Homo sapiens: one gene and its partners. The protein of the gene in region 2 interacts with the protein of the main gene of each other region in a pairwise test. Each region holds a gene or a part of one and is shown on either strand. Other genes may lie near its edges. The genes, in order: RAI1, MAML3, SCMH1, NID2, NFX1 and ZZZ3.

Region 1 (4,111 bases), on a different chromosome or scaffold from region 2:
TTACCTACGATGTATTTCTTACTATAGGTCACGGGCAAGAATTTGAAAGCAATTGGTCTAGGCTTGGGAGTCTAAAGAGGAGTAAGGCTGGGTGCAGTGACTCACTCCTGTAATCCCAGCACTTTGGGAGGCCAAAGAGGGAGGATCGCTTGAGCCCAGGACTTCAAGACCAGCCATGGCAAGACCCCTGTCTCTAGAAAAAAAAAAAAATTTAAAATTAGCTACGTGTGGTGTCGGGCGCCTGTGATCCCAGCTACTCAGGAGACTGATGCTGGAGGATCGCTTGAGCCCTGGAGGTTGAGGCTGAAGTGAGCTGTGTTTGTGCCAAGGCACTCCAGCCTGGGCCACACAGCAAGACCCTGTCTCAAAAATAAAACAAAGAGGAGTAAGACAGGGTCCCTGCCTATGAGAGCCCCACAGTCTAGTGGAAGAGAAAGGCAGCTCCAGTACCCCTGAGTTCCCTTTATCTCCACAGAAGCCAGAGGGATGCTAGGCTGGTGGGAAAGGTCCTATTTTGCCCACTCCACAGTTGGCTTCTGGGGCCTGGATCTCACCTTGATACATTCTCCTCCTCTCCAAGGCTTTTGCTTGTGAGAGCTTTTGCCAGAGTTATGGGGCTGAGCCTGCCCTGAGATCAGAATGATGTGTCCACTTCTGTGTCACGCAAAAGGCCACTTTTCCTTGCTCCTGGGCCCCGAATATACCGGCTTGCCTGTCAAGAGGGGGAGGGGTGGGAAACTAGAAGATTCCTTTCCAGTTTCTAGATCCCGAGGGCCACGTCCCAGGAAAGCCTCTGAAAACCCAGCTGTGTGGTCAGCAGGGAGGGGCCACCATTCAGTCTGCAGCGAGGGCTGCCCCCCACCTGGGGTGGGCCTGACCCTGAGCAGAGCGAGGACTGTATGGAGAATGGAGGGGGGCAGGGGCAGGAAGAGAAGCAGAGCCCCCAGCTCGGGGCTCCCATCACGCTGGCGCCTCCACATCAGAGCTAGCCTAACCCACCCCCGCCTCTCCTCCCAGGGCAGCAGACAACTAAAAAAAGATAAAATAAAAAGAAGTAATTCCCCTGCTCTGACGTCAGCGCGAGGTCTTAACAGCCCGGCAGCGGCATGAAACTGGATTGCAACCAGATGTAATGCCCTTGAATTCTCAACACACTACTGCATTGGAAAGACATAAAAGGGGGGCGGGGGACAGTATTGGTGGGAGGAACCGTGCAGATCCCGAGTGGGTCCCTGAATCCGGGCCCGCCGAAACCGCGGGGAAGGCGGCGCGGGAGAGTGTGCGGCGCGCGGAGCAGCGCCCGGCCGGCTCCGCCATTCAGGCGCGCGGCCTCCCCTCCCCCAGCCCCCACCGGCGCATTGTTACACTCGCTCCCATCCATTCAGAGCCCGAGGCCCGCCGCGCCCCCGCCAGCCCGGGCTCCGCGCAGGAGAGCACCGCGGCAGCCCGCACTCCGGCCCCTGCGTGGACTGGATAACGACCAAGAGCCCCAAGAAAGAAAACTGCTAGCCGGGAAAACGGGCGCCCCAGGAAGCTGGGGCCGCGACGGCCTAGGGCCTGGCTGGTGTTTCGCTTCCCCTCCGCCCCACCACGGAGGCCCCTGGCGCGACCAGGCTCCAAATGTCACCCTCGCGTCCTGCCACCCCTTGTCCCCGCCGCACTCGGCCCCCATGTCCTCCTCCCGGGTTCCCTGCCTTCAAGGCGCGTGAGAGGGGGGGCCGGCCTCGAAAAGGGCGGCGGGCTGCGCCGCCGTCTGTGGGGCGCAAGGCTCGCGTGTCCGGGGCCCCCGCCCGTGACGTCATCCCCGAAGGGCCCGTGCCTCCCGGGCCTGGCCGCTACAGAGCTCCCCAGGTCGCGGGGGCCGCTTCCTGCCCGGCCTCGGGGCCTGCGCACAGGCCCCGGGGCCGCTGCCCGGGTAGGGACACCGCAGAGAGCCCGAGCACCCATCTCGCCACGCACGGCCTTCGCCGGCCCTGACTCCCAAGCGATGGCCACGCCGGGCCCGGGTCACGCATGGGGAAGTCAGCTCCCCGTCCCCCACCTCGGACGCACTCACAAAGCTCACCTCCGCCCCCGGCGCCCCGCGAATGCACCCCACGTCCCCACCCCACGCTCCGCAAAGACTCCGCGCCTCGGCGCAAGCAGATCCCTTGCCACACTCGCCCCTCGCGCCCCCATGCCCCCACCCGACCTCAGCTGGCCGCACATCCCCCAGAAGACCCTCAGCCGCGGCGCAGGGCGCCCCCACCCTGCAGCTCCCCAGACGTCCATCCGGTGACCTCGCGCACCCCCCACACCACACAAAGCAAGGACCCCGCGGACCCCACATCTCCACCCAGCGCGCGCGCTCGGCGTCCGAACCCGCCTCGGCTCATCACCCGGCCTAGGATCCCGACGCCTCGCGCCGCCCCCGCCCCGGGGCAGGATACACTGCGCCCCCCGCGCCCCGGCGCTCGCTGCTCACCTCGGCGCCCGCGCTCACTCGGGGGCCTTGGGTCTGGCGCTGCGACTTCGCGGCCCGGAGGCCTGGGTGGCCATGGGGGTCGGGGCGCGGCGGCCCGGCCGGCCCGCGGCCAGGCAGGAAGGAGGGTGGGCCGCGGCGCCCCCTCCTCGCGCCGGCGCTAGGGCCGCGGGCAGGGCGGCCTGCTCGGCTCGCCTCTCGCCCTCGCTGCACTCGCTCTCCCACTCGTCTCTCGGAGCCCAGCCGCGGGCGGGGGCGGCGCCCGGGGACGCGGGGAGCGGGCCTTGGCCGCGCACCCGGCCGGGCCTGCCTGGTGTCCGCGGGTGCCGCGAGGAATGCGATCCCCTCCGCACAGGAAGAGCGGACGAGCGGACGGGCGGGCGGGCGACGCGCGGGGGGAGAAGGAGAGCAAGAGCGCGAGGAAAAAAGTTCCCGGGCGGCCTGGCTGCGCTCGCTCGCGGCCCCGGGCGCCAGGTGGGCCGTGCGCGCCCCGACAGCACCCCCTGGCGGTCCGCGCGCCCCACTGCGCGCCCCCCGCCCGCTGGCCGGCCTGCGGGAGGGGGCCTCTGCGGTGGGATCCCGGTGCGGCCTGGGAGGACACTAGCGCCCTGCGTACAGGAGCTTCCAGCGTCAGGCCAGGCCCCCACCCTCACCCCACCATTAGCCCTCACCTGTGCCCACTTCTTTGCAGTTTGAGAAACATTTTCGATTTCAAAACTCCATTGGCTTCATGTAAACTTCATTTACTGGGCACCTGGCACCTTGCTGAGTCTTGAGGAATCAGCAGAGACAATGCGGTCCCTGCTGTCGTGGAGCTGGCATCCTGGTGGGAAGAGACAGACAGCAAACAAATGCTTAGATACATGACGAAGATAATTTTAGAGCAGTAAGTGCTAGGACGAAAATTAGCAGGTGAAGTGACGGCTAGGGCTCCTTGGCTGGGGGAGAGAGAAGGAGGCCTGTCTGTGCAAAGATCTAAATAGCAAGAGGAACCGCCATGGGTAGAGTCTGGGAAGAGCATTTTGTTCTTTTAGAGGCAGGGTCTTGCTGTGTTGCCCAGGCCGAACTTGAATTCCTGGCCTCAAACAGTCCTCCCACCTCAGCCTTCTGAGTAGCTGGGACTACAGGGGCCTGCCCTCCTGGGAAGAGCATCATTGGCAGAAAGAACATCAAGTGCAAAGGTCCTGAGGCAGGAGAGAACTTGGTGAGTAAGTGGAATTGTGAGGAGGCCGTCAGCAAGGGGACAAGTAATGGGCACATTGAAGTCAGAGCCATATCGGGAGGGCCAGAGCCTGCAGGGCTGCAGAGAGCTCAGTGAGGAATTTGTTTGCAATTCTAGTGCAAGGAAGGTAGCCACTGGCAGACTTTAAACAGAGGCATGTTGAATGAGAGAGTCCTTGCATGAAACTTAAGGTACAGACCTCGGAGCAATTTCATGCCTAGGTCTCTACTTGCCATAGCTCAGGTGGGAGCTCACTGCCACCTGCTTGGGAAGCCTCTCAGCCCCACCCAGGCTCTAGGGTCTGTGGGATATGACCCCATTAACAGCCCCATCGAAGCCTCCCTCATTTGTCCTTTGGTAGGGCAGAGGGGAGCTGGTCAAGGCATCAGAGCTTGTGGGTGACCTGGGACAAGTGAATCCTGCATCTG
Region 2 (3,500 bases):
TGTTTGATTGATTTCACAGTTCTCCAAGATGGGTAATGTGGAAAAAGACAACAGAATTTAGCCTTTTTAAGCTCAAGAGTATAAGACAGGACTGTTACTTAACAAACAGGGAACAGTAATCACACAAGTACTTCAAATATATCCAAGAATTACTATTTAACATGCAAAACAGGTTCTTACACTGGATCCCTTCTATGACACTCACACCAGGGTGAGTGAGTGAATGAGTGAATGTGTGTGTGTGTGTGTGCACGTGCATGCATGAGAGAGAGAAATGCCTTATATTCCTATCTCAACCAAATGGGCAGGAAAACTTCTTTAACAACAGTTGGCCATTAGTCTCACAGCGATATTCAGAAAATAACTCCATATAACTCTATTTTACTATTAAATTCCTCATCCTTCTTCTTCCAGAGATGTCAGTAAACTATGTACAGGACTGCCCATTTTTCTCCTATCAGGTGGCAGAAATCCTAAAAAAGATTCTAAAGTTTGCCCTTATAATTCTAATGAGACAGGATAGAAAGTATCAAGCATACTAGCTTCCTGAAAACTTGGCTTTCCCTGGGAAGGAACTCAGCTTGAAGAGCATTTTGTAGATTATGATTAATGCTTAACTAACTCTGCTTCTACTTTTCTGACCACTGGCTGCCCAGTACTAAATAAAATATACCACAACCAAATAACATAATAGAATTAAACATGTATTGGAGCTTAAAAAAATGCTTCTTGAGAATTAAAAGAAAAAAATACATATGAAGGACAGAAAAAACAAAATTTCAAAAAGTTTTCCACAAACTTAAGGCATGCTGTGTTGGGCAATGGAAAGCTTTCCGAAAGACAGTCTGTCCTGTTACCCATGCTAGCGGCAGAACAGGATAAGCCAAAGAAAAGGTTATCATAGGGAAGATGTAGAAATAGCTTGGTAATACGAGCTTGCCAAAAAAATTGATACAGAGCCAGTAATTTACCTTCAACAGGGTAAGAAATGGGAAGCCAGATTAACGTATAAGGACATTCAGCAGTGGACTAATATGTTGACATTTCCTGAATCTATTCCAGGAATGGATGGAACATTTTGGATGGGTTGTAGTTGTCTCCAATACTCGGTAATAACGCATTTATTATTAAATGCATGTTATGAATTTTTTGTGATAAGCTCTTCAGAACAGGGGTCACATAGATTTATGCAGTCTGTAAGCTGTATATAAATTAAGCACACTCTGAAAGTTACGATGGTGCTAATACAGTGAAGAGGTCATGAAAATAATATGGTCTTATCTAAGTCAACTAAGACTATCACCATTTTAAAATTTTGAAAACTGTGCACTGTCATGCTTTTTGATGTGCCTGCTCAGCTTGAAAATGTACTTGTCAATTGAAATTTGCCTTAAAATTTTAACCAGGACCTCAGTTCCAAATACAGCAAATAAACAATGCCCCCTTTTGTTACCACAAATAATTAAAAGCCATCTTTTCAACTGAGGCTCTCTGATAGGTGAAGTCAATAATTTTCACCAAGTCTTTGAGGGGAAGAAAAAAACTATGTCAATAAAGTGGTGGTGGTTGGGATGGGATCATTTGACTACATGTTCAGAACGGACCTAATACCTGAGGTAGTGCAGCTTCAAACCCAGGTCTGTGCCACCTGCTCTATCAACAGGGCTGGTGAGGACTCACACAGAACCCAGCCCCCTCTGTGGCAGCCTGGAGCCAAGGAAAATTTTTTACCCCTCACCCACTCTGCTTTTTGTTTGCTATTTTTTTGTTGTTGTTTTTCATGCCCATTCTTGTAAATGTGTAAGATAGGAAAACAAATCAAAAGAGGCAAAGCCCTCATTAGACTGCCTTCTTAATCCAAGCGAGGCAGAAAGATAATTAATCGATATTTAGTACTTCGGACATATTGGTCCTTAGAAAGTAAACAATACCAATGAAACAGTAAAGAATCCTATTCATCTTTATTTTTATATCACCGTTATTATTATTTGGTTGTGGGTGATCATTGTTTTTCTTTAGGGCTTTCCAAATAGAGCGCCCAATCTGAGAACTACATTTAATTGTTCTGTGCCTCACTGGAGTACAACTATAATCCTGCAGTCAATTCAAGAAAATGAAGAGCAACGTTTTCTTTACAACCTCTATTTTTGAGATTTTACCTCAATACAGACTGTTAAAATACTCTCAGAAGCCAAGGTTAACTTTTAAACTAATTATTTTAAAAGGAAATATAACTTGTAGAGCATGTTTCTTTCTTTTTTTTTTTTTTTTTTGGTACACAGAATTTACTTGCAACTCTGCTTAAGAGTTAAGGCTTACATTACATTCATCACACTCATCACACATACCAGTGAGAGATGCATGTGAAACAGCTGAAGCTAAAATACACTCCTATTCTGTACACAGCCCTGGCATTTATTAGTGCGTAAGTCTAATCAACAGGCTAAATCATTGTCATAAAATGACAGAAAATTTTATTTTCACGCAGTCATCTTTCAAGTCTATTTGTTGCTAATTTGCTAAACTGGGATTCACTATGAAATCTACAGCTGATGTCTCTGTCTATTGAAGCAAGCATTATCTTTCTATTTTCAAAAGTAAGCTGTGGCTTGGGCTTGCTGTCTTCTTCCCAGTAAGGTCAGGAGGCTGGGCTTGCTTCCACCTGCGAGTGTATCACAAACCAGGCGCGCGCACCCGAGCCCTCCCTCCACCAGGGCGGAAACCAGAGAACACAACCCAAACACCGAAAGTTTCTGGTCGCAAACTCTACTCATCTTGCCGTGTCCAGAGACCCGGCACTGGGAACGGCACTGGCTTTTGTTCCAGGGTCCCCCAGCTGGCGAGGTAAACGCCACAGCAGTCCTTGATCCCCAAAGGTTGTGAGAGATTCTGTGGCACGGGAATTTTGGAGCCTCCCGAAAGGAGCCCATTTCTCCGCAATCCATGCGCGTGGGGTGTACAAATACACGAAAAGAGGACGCGGGGTGGGCAGGCATGAAACCTTCAGTGCCTCTTAAATTCTCAGTCTCAGGTTCACAAAGTGAATCTCCTCCTCCGTGGAAGGGCGCTAGGGGGGCGGGGGCTGGGAGAGAAATAGGTTGGAGAAAGGGACCGGAGCTACAGTCGAGATGCGGGACCGGCCCCGCCTCCGGCTACAATCAGAAAAACTACAGTGTGTCAGTGGTTTTCGGTTTCCTGTTTGTAAAGCGAGAACCTCCCCCGACTCGAACTGTCGTTCTTCCTCAAAACCAACCGAGACGGCCCCTTCTTCGCGCTCGGGGCAGGCTCAGCCGCAGGGGGAGCGGAGAGGAGGGACGCGGGGGCATGGGGGGCGCGGCGGGGCGGGGACAGCCGCGATGAAGCGGGCAGGGCCACGGGGCGCAGCACCCCTCCCAGCCCAGCGGCCCCGGGGTCTGAGCTGGGCCGCGAGGCGGACAAAGCGCCTCCCGCTCCCTCCCCCACGGCCACGTTCCAAAAGGGAGGAAGAAGGCGGGCAAGAG
Region 3 (2,605 bases), on a different chromosome or scaffold from region 2:
CTGTGTGATGCTGGGGCTCTGGTGGACATTCGGAAGACCACCTGTTCTTTAGGGACTGCTGGAATTAGAAGGACGCTTAGGAATCATTTTTTCCAAGCTCTCCATTTTATTTATTTGAGACAGGGTCTCAAATTGTCACCTAGGCTGGAGTACAGTGGTGCGAACACGGCTCACTGCAGCCTCGATCTCCTAGGCTCAAGCCATCCCCTCACCTCAGCTCCCCAAGCAGCTGGGACTACAGGTGTGCGCCACCACAGCAGGCTAATTTTTGTATTTTTTTTTTGTAGAGCTGGGGTTTCACCATGTTGCCCAGGCTGGTCTCAAACTCCTGAGCTCAAGAGATCCTCCCACCTTGGCGTCCCAAAGTGCTGGGATTACAGGCATGAGCCAGCGTGCTCGGCCTCGTTTTATGTATGAGAAAACTAAGACCAAGAGAAGGGGAATGACTGGTCCAATGAATGCGTAGTGATTTGGCTGTTAACTGATTAAAAAGACACTGGTATCTATATTGGTTTTTATTTATAAACAGATTGACATAAAATAAGTCCAGATGGCAGCGTGAGTAGCTGTGCTGCTGACTTGCTTACAAGGAAGCCTGTGGACAGGCGAGTGGGTGGAACCGACTCCAGCCTGGAAAACCTGCCCTCCCATCCCCCTTAGCGCCTTCTTGGCCTTCCGGCCTGATTTTCTTCGACAGCAGTTCTGGCCAGGGCAAGGAGCTGTGGTGGGGGCAGTATAAGCCAGGGACTCCCTTCCCACAGATGAGGCCTAGGGCTGCAAAAGGGCCCCGTGAAGAGAGGAGAAGGTGACAGGGATCCTTCTCCTCCCCATATGGAGTGATGTGGTCAAGGCTTTATGGGTCTCTCCACCTCAAAGAGAAAGTGCCCTAGGGTAGTGTCCTCTGAAGAGGGGCCACGCCTATCTGCAGAGGGCCTCTCTGGGACCAAAGCAGGGCAGTCTCCCTCCTCCTGAAACCCAGTGTCTAGTGTGGGAGGAGTATTAACTACAGGGTTTGCCCAAGTGCCAGAAACAATAAATTAACAATAAGATCTTTTTGTAAAAAAGGTAGAGGTTTGCACCACGAGTTTGGATTCAGGGGAATCTGGTGAGAAGGTACGAGCTGTGGGGCGATGGGGTGCCACAGCAAGACCAGGACAGAGTTGGCCTTTTCCTCCATCACGTGGAAGGCATTCAGCCTAAACTCCTGGTGAGAGGCCAGCCAGGGTTGAGAAATAAATAGAGGGACCTTAGAGCCCCGGCAGAGCTGAGGGAAGAGCAGCACCAGCCCTGGACCCCCACTCTCCCTCCTCAGTCCTTCATGGAAGGACTTATCATGGCAGCTGTGGCTAGGAGTGGTGGCTCCACACAGCCTCTTGGAGTCCTGAGGTGGCCCGGAACCCCACTGAGGTGCCTGGGGTGGGCTGATGCCCCTCATTCCTAGAAGAATGCCCCCACCTGCTGCCACTTGGTTGTCTAGGCTGCCTCTCCTGGTTCAGAACTTGCCCTGCTTCAGCCGGTCAATGTGGTAGGAGAGCTTGAGTGCAGGCCCCAGCTTCAGGCCCATGTACTTCATCATCATGTCACTGCGCAGCAGCAGCAGGGCCTTGCCATCGATCTCCTGGGGGGTGGGGAGGTGGGCAGAAGTGGAAGGGAGGCACCATCAGAGTCCTGGTTGGTCTGACCACCCCAGGTTCTGATTATAGGCCATCCTGGGAAGTGCCCGCCACATGGAGTCCAGTTCACCTGCTGTGATGCTGAAGCCTACCTGTTCTCCTCAGCCTTTGTCTCTAAGCATCCCTCCTCCCCAAACATCTCGTATTGTCCCCACCAGGTGAGGCTCTCCACACAGGTTCCTACTGAGAGGTCAGGCAGCAGCACCTACGTGTTTGCGAAACAGGTCAGCGTGGGGTCCAAGCTGAGGATCAGCTTCCCGGACAAACTGCATCACATCCTCGACTGTCCATGAGGAGGGGTCCCGGCCACTCAGTCGAGAGGCATCGCGGCTCTCCAGGTATCGGTCCGACCCTGCAGGACAGGAGGGCACCTACCATAAAGGGCGGGGACTGGTTTGTAAATCCCCACCACTCTCCTTGGCACATCTCAGTGGCCTTCTAGGTGATGCTCACAGTAGTGCCAGACGATGAGCTGAGGAACTGGAGATAGCTGGGGGAGGGAAGCATTTCTTCACAAAGGGAAAGCCAAATCTTTGTTTTTTAAGGGTAGATCTGATTTTTGGAAATGGCCAGAAGAAATTTTGCATTGAGGCTATGATTCAGCCCAAACCTGAGACAGTGGTACCAACATGGTAAGGGGACTATTTGGGTGTCTGGGGGGCCTGGTGAGTGGGGCTGTTTTTGCCTTGGCTCTGGGGGACCATTTCTAGAGAGACTGGTAGCCTGGTAAGATTAGAGACAAATCCTTGGCACGTGGGCAAAAAATACCCTGGATTCTTTTCCAAGGCCTGGAGAATAGGTGACCTCATTACAGCCTGATACACTAAGGCAGAAGCTGGTTTTTTGGTTTCTTTGAGATGGAGTCTCGCTCTGTCACCCAGGGGCTGGAGTGCAGTGGCGCCATCTCAGCTCACTGCAACTTCTGCCTCCCA
Region 4 (3,500 bases), on a different chromosome or scaffold from region 2:
GTACTAGAGGAAGGAGAAAAAACCCCATTTCAAAAAGCTAAGCTTTCAAAGCTCCTGGCATTGATCTGCCATAATAAATGTGAGATAGGAGAGAATCCTGGTTCTAAATTTAGAGAAATTCCATAAGATAAGGAGGTTGTAGAGACTGTGAAGAATTGAAGGGGATGGGGAAGGGGGGAAGAGAGTAGTAAACAGAGCTGTGAAGAGGAGAGTCTGACTTTTTGCTGTGAACTCTGGGCATTTAGCACTTTATTTTATTCATTCATTCATTCAACCAGCCAACAAATTCATTTCAATTAAAATTTATTCAACATCTTCTATATACTGTTCTTGAGATGAGCACTCATTATGGGTGGCAAGTATTTAATTTCTTTGTCTCCACCAAAATAGGCAAATATCAGAGGAAGGAAACAACTTCCTTTTAAGTAGAATTTATGATCCCAAAGTACACGCCAAAAGAGTTTGGCTGTTTAAAAGCCACCCACACACTAAATGATCACTTGTAAAGTTCTTGGTCAGTTCTACAAAATTCTACATCTAATTGCTAAAGAGCCCACTTCATGAAGTCTTGAAGGGCTCCCCCTCTCAAAAAACTCCTTGACTGGCTTCCAAACAGGAAAGGTCCTCACATTCCTAGATACAAGCTTTTGCAAGAGCCGCACAGGCTCTGTCTCCAAAGAGAAGCCCTCAGATGGGCTGCCAAACCTGACAAACGAGTCACTGGTTCCCAGCTCCCCCAGGATCCCAGAGAGGAGAGAGGGGCCTCCACAGGGAGAGGAGCAGCACAGAGAGGATCAGGGTGAGTGGCTGCAGGCCCTGTTATCAGAAAGAGAGAAAAGCCAGAGCCCTCTGCAGAAACCAGAGCCTGACTCTCCCTCCCAGGTACAGGACATCCCAATCAATGTTGAAGTGACACTCATCAGAGCCAGGCTGATGCATGCAACATACACCCCTCTAAGAGTTTCTAATTTTTTCAATTCATTTAATTAACTGCAGCTATCTGGACAAAAATCAGAATAGTGACATCCTTTTCTTCAAGGGGCTTGCCTATAGAGGCTTATCAAAATGAAAATGAAAATGGAAATGAAGAATTAGGGTGACTCTTATAGGGGTCACAAAGTTCTCTTTGTCATCTTCCTCAGGACCACATGTCCTCTAGAGCTCTAGGATCATTGGGTCTGGCCTCCAGTGTTTGCTGTGAACACTAACCTCCATTCCTTAGTGTAGTTCTTCATCTCCCACTGCCTGTAGGACACTGTCACATGGGGGACTGTCCCTCATTTATTTTACTGCACTAAATCCTACAGATCCTGCCAAAAATTCAAAGACAAATGCTGAGTGCTATCACATCCCTAATACTATATCCTTCCTGATACTCTTCAGCAAAACGTCAGCATTTCTAATTTCCATATATGGTTCAGCATTAACCAATTTCCATATATGTCTCTATTCTCTTCATCTTCACAGTGATATCTCAGACTCAGTCTGAACTCTCTTGGATGGGCTGTAGACCACCCCTCTTCTAAACCTTGTCTCCAGAAGTCAAAAAGCTACAATAAAGTCCTGCTTTTACCTCTCATTTTCTCTGTGAAATCCAACCACCTCCATCAATGACTATCAACCTTTGAACCAAGTCAACATGTCTCAGTCTCCACCCAGATGGAGGCCTCCATTGGGCAGTGTCTTAATTTGTCTTCTGTTGTTTACAACAAAATACTTGAAATTGGGTAATTCACAAAGAAAAGGAATTTACTTCTTACAATTATGGAGGCTGAGAAGTCCAAAGTTGAGAGGTCACATCTGGTGAGGGCCTTCTGGCTAGTGGTGACTGCAGAGTGCCAGGGTACTTACGGTATCACATGGCGACAAAGCTGAGTGTGCTAATGTGCTAGCTCAGGTCTCAATTCCTCTTCTTATAAAGCAACCAGGCCCACTCCATGATAATCCAGTAATCCATGAATGAATAAATTAATCCATTCCTGAGGGCAGAGCCCTCATGACCCAGTCACCTTTCAAAGGCCCCACCTCTCAATACTGTCACATTGAGGATTAAGTTTCAACATGATTTTCAGAGGGGACAAATATTCAACCATAGCGGGCAACCTTGCACTCATCTGTCTTATGTTACTGCCTGTGACTCCTTCATCCATTTCTCTGGCCCCTTTGCTAATAGGTTGCTCTCTCAACCTTCTCCTGGGTCATGTTTTTGCTCAGAACAATCTCTCTTGATACCTCATTCTCAATATCCATTCTTTTTAGCCCTTTCAACCTGACTTAAATTCCAGATAAACAAAACATTCCCCACATTACAGAGATCTATATAACTCAGCTGTCTCTAACCCCATCCCTAAAATGACAAAAACAAAACACTCCTCTTTCCCCACAAAAAGCACAGCTAAACATTAGTCCTCTATGTCTCCCATCAATAAGTATTTCAAAGGTCTACACCATAACTTTTTTGCTCTGTGAACTACCTATGAGAGTTCAAGAAATCTCAGATTAACTGAATTGACAAACACTATTTGTTCACATTTTTTTTTCAGATACAATTACACCTTGACATTCCTGCAATATCAGGTGCAACATCTGGTCACACCTGACAGGAATATCCATGGAGAAAAAGGGCACCAACTGCAATTGTTTTTAATGGCAAAGATGCCATTGCTTTGAATCTTCCAGTTTCCAGTAACTTTGCAATATAAAGTTAGTAAGCCAAACTTTAAGAACGCCATGTAGAACTCAGTCCTTCAAGCAAATTAGATTACTGTTTGCCAAAGTCTATCTCCAAAGAACTATTAAAACAAGAACTCAAGTCCCAGAGCTCTTTAAAATATTGGAAGAAACTTCAATGTGGGTAATTGAAAGAACATCCCCTATCCAAACAGAATCCTCCTTTCTTTTTTTTTTTTTTTCCCCTTTCTTTTTTATTTATTTATTTATTTATTTATTTATTTTTTATTATACTCTAAGTTTTAGGGTACATGTGCACATTGTGCAGGTTAGTTACATATGTATACATGTGCCATGCTGGTGCGCTGCACCCACTAACGTGTCATCTAGCATTAGGTATATCTCCCAATGCTATCCCTCCCCCCTCCCCCAACCCCACCACAGTCCCCAGAGTGTGATATTCCCCTTCCTGTGTCCATGTGATCTCATTGTTCAATTCCCACCTATGAGTGAGAATATGCAGTGTTTGGTTTTTTGTTCTTGCGATAGTTTACTGAGAATGATGGTTTCCAATTTCATCCATGTCCCTACAAAGGACATGAACTCATCATTTTTTAAGGCTGCATAGTATTCCATGGTGTATATGTGCCACATTTTCTTAATCCAGTCTATCATTGTTGGACATTTGGGTTGGTTCCAAGTCTTTGCTATTGTGAATAGTGCCGCAATAAACATACGTGTGCATGTGTCTTTATAGCAGCATGATTTATAGTCCTTTGGGTATATACCCAGTAATGGGATGGCTGGGTCAAATGGTATTTCTAGTTTTC
Region 5 (3,500 bases), on a different chromosome or scaffold from region 2:
AAGCAGAGATGGTAAATATCTATTACTGGGCTGTGGTAAGGATTCAACAAGTTAACTGATGTAGAGTGCCTGGCACAGGGTGATTTGAGACCATTTACTGAGGTCCCATATCACCCTTCATCCCAAACCATTACATGCTAACCAGGTATGTTTACTTAGAGCCACCAGCAAAGCATGTCCACCAGCAATCCCAACGGAATTAGCATTCCAACTTACAGGTTACAGGAATGTGGGCAGTCCTGGCCAGGCTGTTTCTTTCTACAAACCTCACCACAGCTATGTGGAATTTCATTTCTGCTCCACTCAGGATTCTTTACCTTGCCTAGAACATATCAGATCAGAGAGTCAATGGTACAAACTTCAACCACATTCTCAACTTTAATGAAACAGTAAAGTATAGCTAGGCAGCATGCAACTTTAGTGTGGTTTTTATTATTTCAACAAATGTATTATCCCATATCTTAAAATAAAAAGATAAATATAATGCTATTCATAAAAAGTTTCACTGAGTATGATAAATCTTAAATCTTGGATTACCTGGGAAAGATAAATAAAAAGTCACTTTTACTTACGAAAATACTATCTTGACTAATGGAAACGTTTAATTTAAGATAAATACCTATAAGACAAGTCGTCTATAACTGGACTTCTGAACTGATATGCGAATTGCTGCTGGAAGGATCAGAGAGAGGGAATAAGAGAAGAGCACCGTGGGGAAAGGGGGGAGGCAGTAAGAAATGGAAAGGACATAAATCCCGAGTAGCAGGAACTCACCTATTCCAGAACTATAAAGTCGGCATAAAAGACCTTATACTTTTATAATCAATGTCACTGCAAATCTTCATGGCACATCTTCCATGGACTCAGCAGAGACAGGGAAGAGTAAAACGAAGGCACAGGATTCCTCCTTGCCCTTGAGGAATTCATCCTCACTTGGGCAATTTGCACACTAAATTGCAGCCATCCCCAGTCCATGGCCTCTGCTTTTCTCTCTATACTATCTCTTTCAGAAATTTTATTCATGTTGAGAGGTGCAATCCACCTAAAGGCCATTGATCCCCAAATCCACATTTTCTCTCTTGCCCTGAATCTTCAGTTTCAGACCCATATGTCCAAATGTCTGCTGAACATTCTTGCTTGGGGTTTCACAGTCACCTCAAACTGGCTTTATCCACAGTCAAAGTTCACATCTTCCCTCTATAACTCCTCCCTTTTCAGGGTTTCCTATTTCTGTCAGTGACGTCAACTCTGTCAGAGTCACACACGCTCAAAAACTACAGTCATCTCTGACACCTCTTTCTACTTAATCACCAAGTTGTGTCAATTTTTCCTACAAAGTGGCTCTCACCTCATCGCTCTCCTGTTCCTGCCTCTCTAACTGGCCAAAACCTCATCTCCAGACTATCACAAAAGCCTCCCTGCCTCTGTGCTTTTTTGCTCCAATACAGTGCCCTGGTTTTCCTCTAACATCTCTCAAGAGCTCTACCTTTTGTCCCTGACTCCAAATGATGTTTTGGGGTTTTTTGCTTTTCTTTCCCCTGCAAGTGTTCTGCATTACACCCTTTTCTCACTCTGTACCCTTTCATCCGCTAGGGTCTTAACTACTCCTCTCAGCTGTGATTCTCATCCTTAAGTCCTGGTCTTTCCTCAAATATTGCTACCTGCCTGTTGGACATATTTCACTGTATGTTCTGCTCACTCCTCCAGCTCAACATTTCTAAACTGTAGTCACTGTCCCCACCAGACCTTCTTCTTTTGACCTGCCCTTTTCCTTGGTATCACCATTTCCAAAAGCATGAAACTTTGGGTGACTCCCATTCCTACTACTGTCAGGAATCAACCTAACACCATATTTTTCTATCACACTCCTTAGAGGCTTGTACTACTCTTCATCTGGATTATAAGTCCCAAATTATTTAGGCTCCAAAATACTCTACTCACTGCTACCAAACTAATCTCCATAAAGAATCATGTTGATGCCCTCAGTGGCTTCCCACAGCCTTCCAAATGAAGTCCCAACATCTGAGACTGGTATCAAAGGGTCAGCCCTTCCTTTCCAGTCATCTCCCACTCCCCTACCATCATAGATCCTGGGCTCTGTAAGTGGATGAATCACTCTTCTCCCAATATACCCTAAACCCTGTTGATTTTGAACTGCCTATGCTATTCCCTTCAACATATCTTTCTGCCTACAAAGATTTTACCTAGTTTACAATGCCAGTTCAATTCTACCTCCTCCAAGAAGGCTTCTCTTAATCATCCAGCTGTAAGTCGTAACTACCCCAAAGATCTCCCATAGTACTTTGTACTTCTAGCAGAGTATCAGGCTAATTGTGTTTTAACTCTTAGACTGTAAGCTCTGGTAAGTTAACCGTTTTATTCGCCTCTGTTTCTTCACAGTGCCTTGAACATTAATAAGTTCTCAATAAAAACATGTTAAATTAATGGTCCCCTGGAAGAACAGTGTGGGGCAAAGTCATCTGCAAATAAGGCCTTTATGTGCATTCTCACATCATTTTACCACTTTCAGATCATCTTGACCTTCACTCCACATTCTTATACTGCCTTAGAGTCTCTCATCTAATTTGCCAGTAGAGGCTTTAACAAGATTTTTAATTCCATTGTGGTACTTTATGTAATCCTTCAAAATAAGGTATTAAGTATTGGTATTGTCCTATTTGCCCAAATTTCCACTGATCTCTTACTTCCAGTTTCATGCTGCCTTTCTGGTAGTATATTCAAGAATATTTATTCCCTCATCTAATACCAATTTAGTATCTATTAAGGCTGAGATTCTGTCAATAAAACATGTAAGACCGGAAAATTCCAAATAAAACAGAGGCCAAAGTGAGACAGAGAATAACAAAGGAAAGCTTCCTTTGTAAGAGGGTGTTTGGGGTCAGATCTTAAATGATACTGTGGTTAAGAATTGAAAGAAAAGAAGGGGAAGTCAAAGAGTTCACCAAGGTATTGCATCTAGAAGATTCAGAGTTGATGGTAAATGACTTGACTCTTTGTGAAAGCTGCTAGCTAAGTAATGGGAAAGGAGAAATATGAGCAAATTGGTTAGAAAAATAAGGAGAGCATGCAGAAACAAACAGGAAGAGCTACTTATTTCAAGAAGGGAATGGTCAAAGGTGTCAAGGGCTATCACTCTACCAAAAAGATTATGAGCTTATAAAATCAGCCCTAGATATGGCTGGAAAGGAGTCATTGGTGATTTCTTTGTTTTTATTTTATTTATTTATTTTTTTGAGATGGAGTCTCACTCTGTCGCCCAGGCTGGAGTGCAATGGCATGATCTTGGATCATTGCAACCTCTGCCTCCCAGGTTCAAGCGATTCTCCTGCCTCAGCCTCCCAAGTAGCTGGGATTACAGACATGCAACACTATGCCCAGCTAACTTATTTTAGTAGAGACGGGGTTTCACCATGTTGGCCAGGCTGGTGTCGAACTCCTGATCTCAGGTGATCCACCTACCTTGGCCTCCCAAAGTGCTG
Region 6 (2,871 bases), on a different chromosome or scaffold from region 2:
TAGGCAGTTTTCTTTGATGAGTTGTACTGACAACTCCAAATACAGAGGCAGAAGGCTGTGTATTTTAAAGGAATTAATGTTGTGAATTAGAAACTTTACACAGTTACTACCACTGGCACTTTTCACCATAGTTTGTACACATCACATGATCATCTTATATAACATTACATTTAAAAAATATATCTGAGTGACAATTTTATAACATTCACACACCATGAGCTGGTTAAGGAAGCAATGCCACAGTTGCCTCCTGTAGTGCTTCACTGTTGGTAATTAAGGACAATTCATTGTGGTTAAAAGAAATTAGATATCAATATGATTAAGCAGCTCCAATTTACTAAAGGCCATCAATGACCACCACTGGGACAGTGAGTTCTTTTAAAGTGTATATCCTAGAAGCAAACACCATCATTGGTTAAAACTTTGTCTAAAGAAGTCAGTTTCTGTGCTGAAAACTATTTTCACAAAACTGAAGGCTACTAAACTGTTTTAATATAAATACTTTGTCTTCTCATTATCATATTTATGACCAAGTTCTTTGAAACCTTTGGAATTTACTCTCTCTTTAATGTGTGCTCTCGTTCCATCTCACCCATTTAAGATCACCACCTAAAACGCAGTGGTGAAAAATTCACCAGGGAAACCTTTGCTCACCAGGAATGTTCAGCTGCTGAACAGTGATCTAGAGCCACAACGGTGCAGAGCTGTACTTGACGAGAACACTCAGGAAGCTCTCATGCTGTGAGTGTCATTTCTGGGAAAGCAGAGAATCTTTCCAAACTGTGCACATAATTAACAATGATACCATTGCTATGTGTTGAAGAGGACTAGTAAATGATGTTCTCTTCCATGTCATCTGTTTGCTGGAAAGTAGTTTGGGTCAAGGTAATTGTAACTGGTGCCCTGAGACACACAGTAGTCTCTGTCTAAGAATGTCTCTGACCTATAAATAGGTTCTAATTGGTGATCTTCCTTGTGAATATCTGTTTCATGTAGACTGTAAAGAAAAAAAGACACACATCATTACATGGTAGTGGATGCATTTTAGTCTGTGTATTACAAAGCTTCCTCACAGCTCTCCCTGTTTAAATCCATTAATCTATCAAAATCTCCAACGGAAAGTTACTTGACATGTGGTATGATTACAGAAAAAAATTAATTGCCTAGAACAACAAAATTTAATTCACTAAGTGTGGGTATTAATATTTTCTATGTTTGGAAATCAAATTCACTAATGGCTGAGAAGCTCTTTTCTTGTCTAAGTTGAAGACTGACAATGAAGAAAACACTTACCAGTCTGAACAAGAATCACAGAAATCCAAAGACATTTCTGGAGGACAATCCTGGCAATGCCACCGAACACCCTGGATGGGTTCTATGCCACAGTTATCACACTATAACAGATTCAGAGAGAAAATGTATTAAGTTATACTGTTCCACGATCTTTTTTATTTTCCACAAGGAAACACATGATGTGCACACAGACATCTTCTCTTCTCTCTCCATGCACAGGACAGTAATATAACACACAAATGGTTATGTGTTAGAGACAATTTCTAGCAAACTAGGTAAAATTCCATCCACTCAATATCAAGATATGGGTGAGTGAGAGGAACATTGGAAGGGATAATCTTCAATCAGCTTAAATTTATTTAAAAATTTTTAAAAGTAAATCATCTCCAACTTGGGTGTTTTGTTATTTGTAATCATCTACTTGAAAGGTACCTCAGACCACTGTATGATGACTATGGTTGAGAAACAGAGAGTTAATACCATAGTTAAAACTATCCAAATACTGGTTAAGGAAGCAATGCCACAGCTGCCTCCTGTAGTGCTTCACTGTTGGTAATTGATACAGAATTGTTTTAGCAGGTTCTCTTGGCTAACATAAACCCAGGCAACAATGAAATTCTGTCTAAACTTTTATCTCTTATTGAATCGCTCTCCCAAAGCCTAAAGACTCCTAATAACCAATGCCCATCATGTCAAAAAGGCAGATCTAGCTCTTTCTCAGCGTGGTGGCATTGTGACAGTCCTCAGTGTGTTCTGTGCACTTTTGGAAATCAAAGGATCTATCATTTCTAGTTTCTTTGATCATCTGGTCAACTATAGTGGCTGACAGAATGGCAAACAAGCCATGGCTGGGTTTTGCAGCAAAATTAGGAGAAGTGAAGCAAGTTTTTCTGAAAGGCCAGAGCTGCCAGTTAGGAAAATCTCTATTGGAGAAACAGGGTCACTGAAAGATCAAGAGGGAAAATCATTTAATATAGTATGGTTACTGGCTACTCTAGAGGATCAAAGGTATAACTTTGTTTTTAATTTGGTTTACCAGTCACAGCACACATCAGTACTTTCATGTGCACCCACCAACACCACCAAGTTTATGGTCTCATTATTACTTCCTCCAGTCCAACCAAGTCAATTCTAATGCCTAAAGGCTTCTCAAACTTGCCAATCTTTATTTCCATGGCCACCAGTCAAGTTCAGGACACCCTCCTCTTTTGTCTAAATTATCAAAAGAATCTCTAACCAGTTTCCTTGACTCTAGTCTTGCCTTCCTCTAATTAAGTTTCCATACTATGGCCAAAATGATGAGGGGAAAAGCTGGTCAGTTCCAAACCCACTGCTTTCCTAAAGATCATCACCCCCAATAGTTTAAGTAACTAGAATGATTCTTTCCAAAACGTAAATGTCATGTTACTTTCTGCTTAAAATCATTCAATGGTTCCCCCCACCAACCTCTCAGGATAGTGTGAGCTCCTTGGCAAAATTTATAAGGCGGTGCAAGCAGCCTCTAACTACTCTCTAGTATGTACTCTAGCCACGCTCAACTATTTTGTTTAACTTCTCTAAATTCCTTATGAGAATGAA

Evidence for each region.
Region 1: the proteins of MAML3 (region 2) and RAI1 interact in a two-hybrid assay, tested with the Homo sapiens proteins (one large-scale study listed by BioGRID and IntAct).
Region 3: the proteins of MAML3 (region 2) and SCMH1 interact in a two-hybrid assay, tested with the Homo sapiens proteins (one large-scale study listed by BioGRID and IntAct).
Region 4: the proteins of MAML3 (region 2) and NID2 interact in a two-hybrid assay, tested with the Homo sapiens proteins (one large-scale study listed by BioGRID).
Region 5: the proteins of MAML3 (region 2) and NFX1 interact in a two-hybrid assay, tested with the Homo sapiens proteins (one large-scale study listed by BioGRID and IntAct).
Region 6: the proteins of MAML3 (region 2) and ZZZ3 interact in a two-hybrid assay, tested with the Homo sapiens proteins (one large-scale study listed by BioGRID and IntAct).

Annotation. Positions count from the first base shown.
Region 1 is NC_000017.11:17,680,147-17,684,257, reverse strand, and holds the start of RAI1 (retinoic acid-induced protein 1), read right to left. Parts: upstream 2,801-4,111; 5' UTR 2,465-2,800; intron 713-2,464; exon of another isoform or gene 555-712; intron 194-554; exon of another isoform or gene 1-193. UniProt on the Homo sapiens protein: Transcriptional regulator of the circadian clock components: CLOCK, BMAL1, BMAL2, PER1/3, CRY1/2, NR1D1/2 and RORA/C. Positively regulates the transcriptional activity of CLOCK a core component of the circadian clock.
Region 2 is NC_000004.12:140,147,685-140,151,184, forward strand, and holds part of MAML3 (mastermind-like protein 3), read right to left. Parts: intron 1-3,500. UniProt on the Homo sapiens protein: Acts as a transcriptional coactivator for NOTCH proteins. Has been shown to amplify NOTCH-induced transcription of HES1.
Region 3 is NC_000001.11:41,026,702-41,029,306, forward strand, and holds the end of SCMH1 (polycomb protein SCMH1), read right to left. Parts: intron 2,045-2,605; coding exon of another isoform or gene 2,026-2,044; coding exon 1,883-2,025; exon of another isoform or gene 1,832-1,882; intron 1,619-1,831; coding exon 1,493-1,618; 3' UTR 501-1,492; downstream 1-500. UniProt on the Homo sapiens protein: Associates with Polycomb group (PcG) multiprotein complexes; the complex class is required to maintain the transcriptionally repressive state of some genes.
Region 4 is NC_000014.9:52,062,560-52,066,059, forward strand, and holds part of NID2 (nidogen-2 precursor), read right to left. Parts: intron 1-3,500.
Region 5 is NC_000009.12:33,304,016-33,307,515, reverse strand, and holds part of NFX1 (transcriptional repressor NF-X1), read right to left. Parts: intron 323-3,500; coding exon 217-322; intron 1-216. UniProt on the Homo sapiens protein: Binds to the X-box motif of MHC class II genes and represses their expression. May play an important role in regulating the duration of an inflammatory response by limiting the period in which MHC class II molecules are induced by interferon-gamma.
Region 6 is NC_000001.11:77,564,788-77,567,658, forward strand, and holds part of ZZZ3 (ZZ-type zinc finger-containing protein 3), read right to left. Parts: intron 1,395-2,871; coding exon 1,294-1,394; intron 998-1,293; coding exon 853-997; 3' UTR 1-852.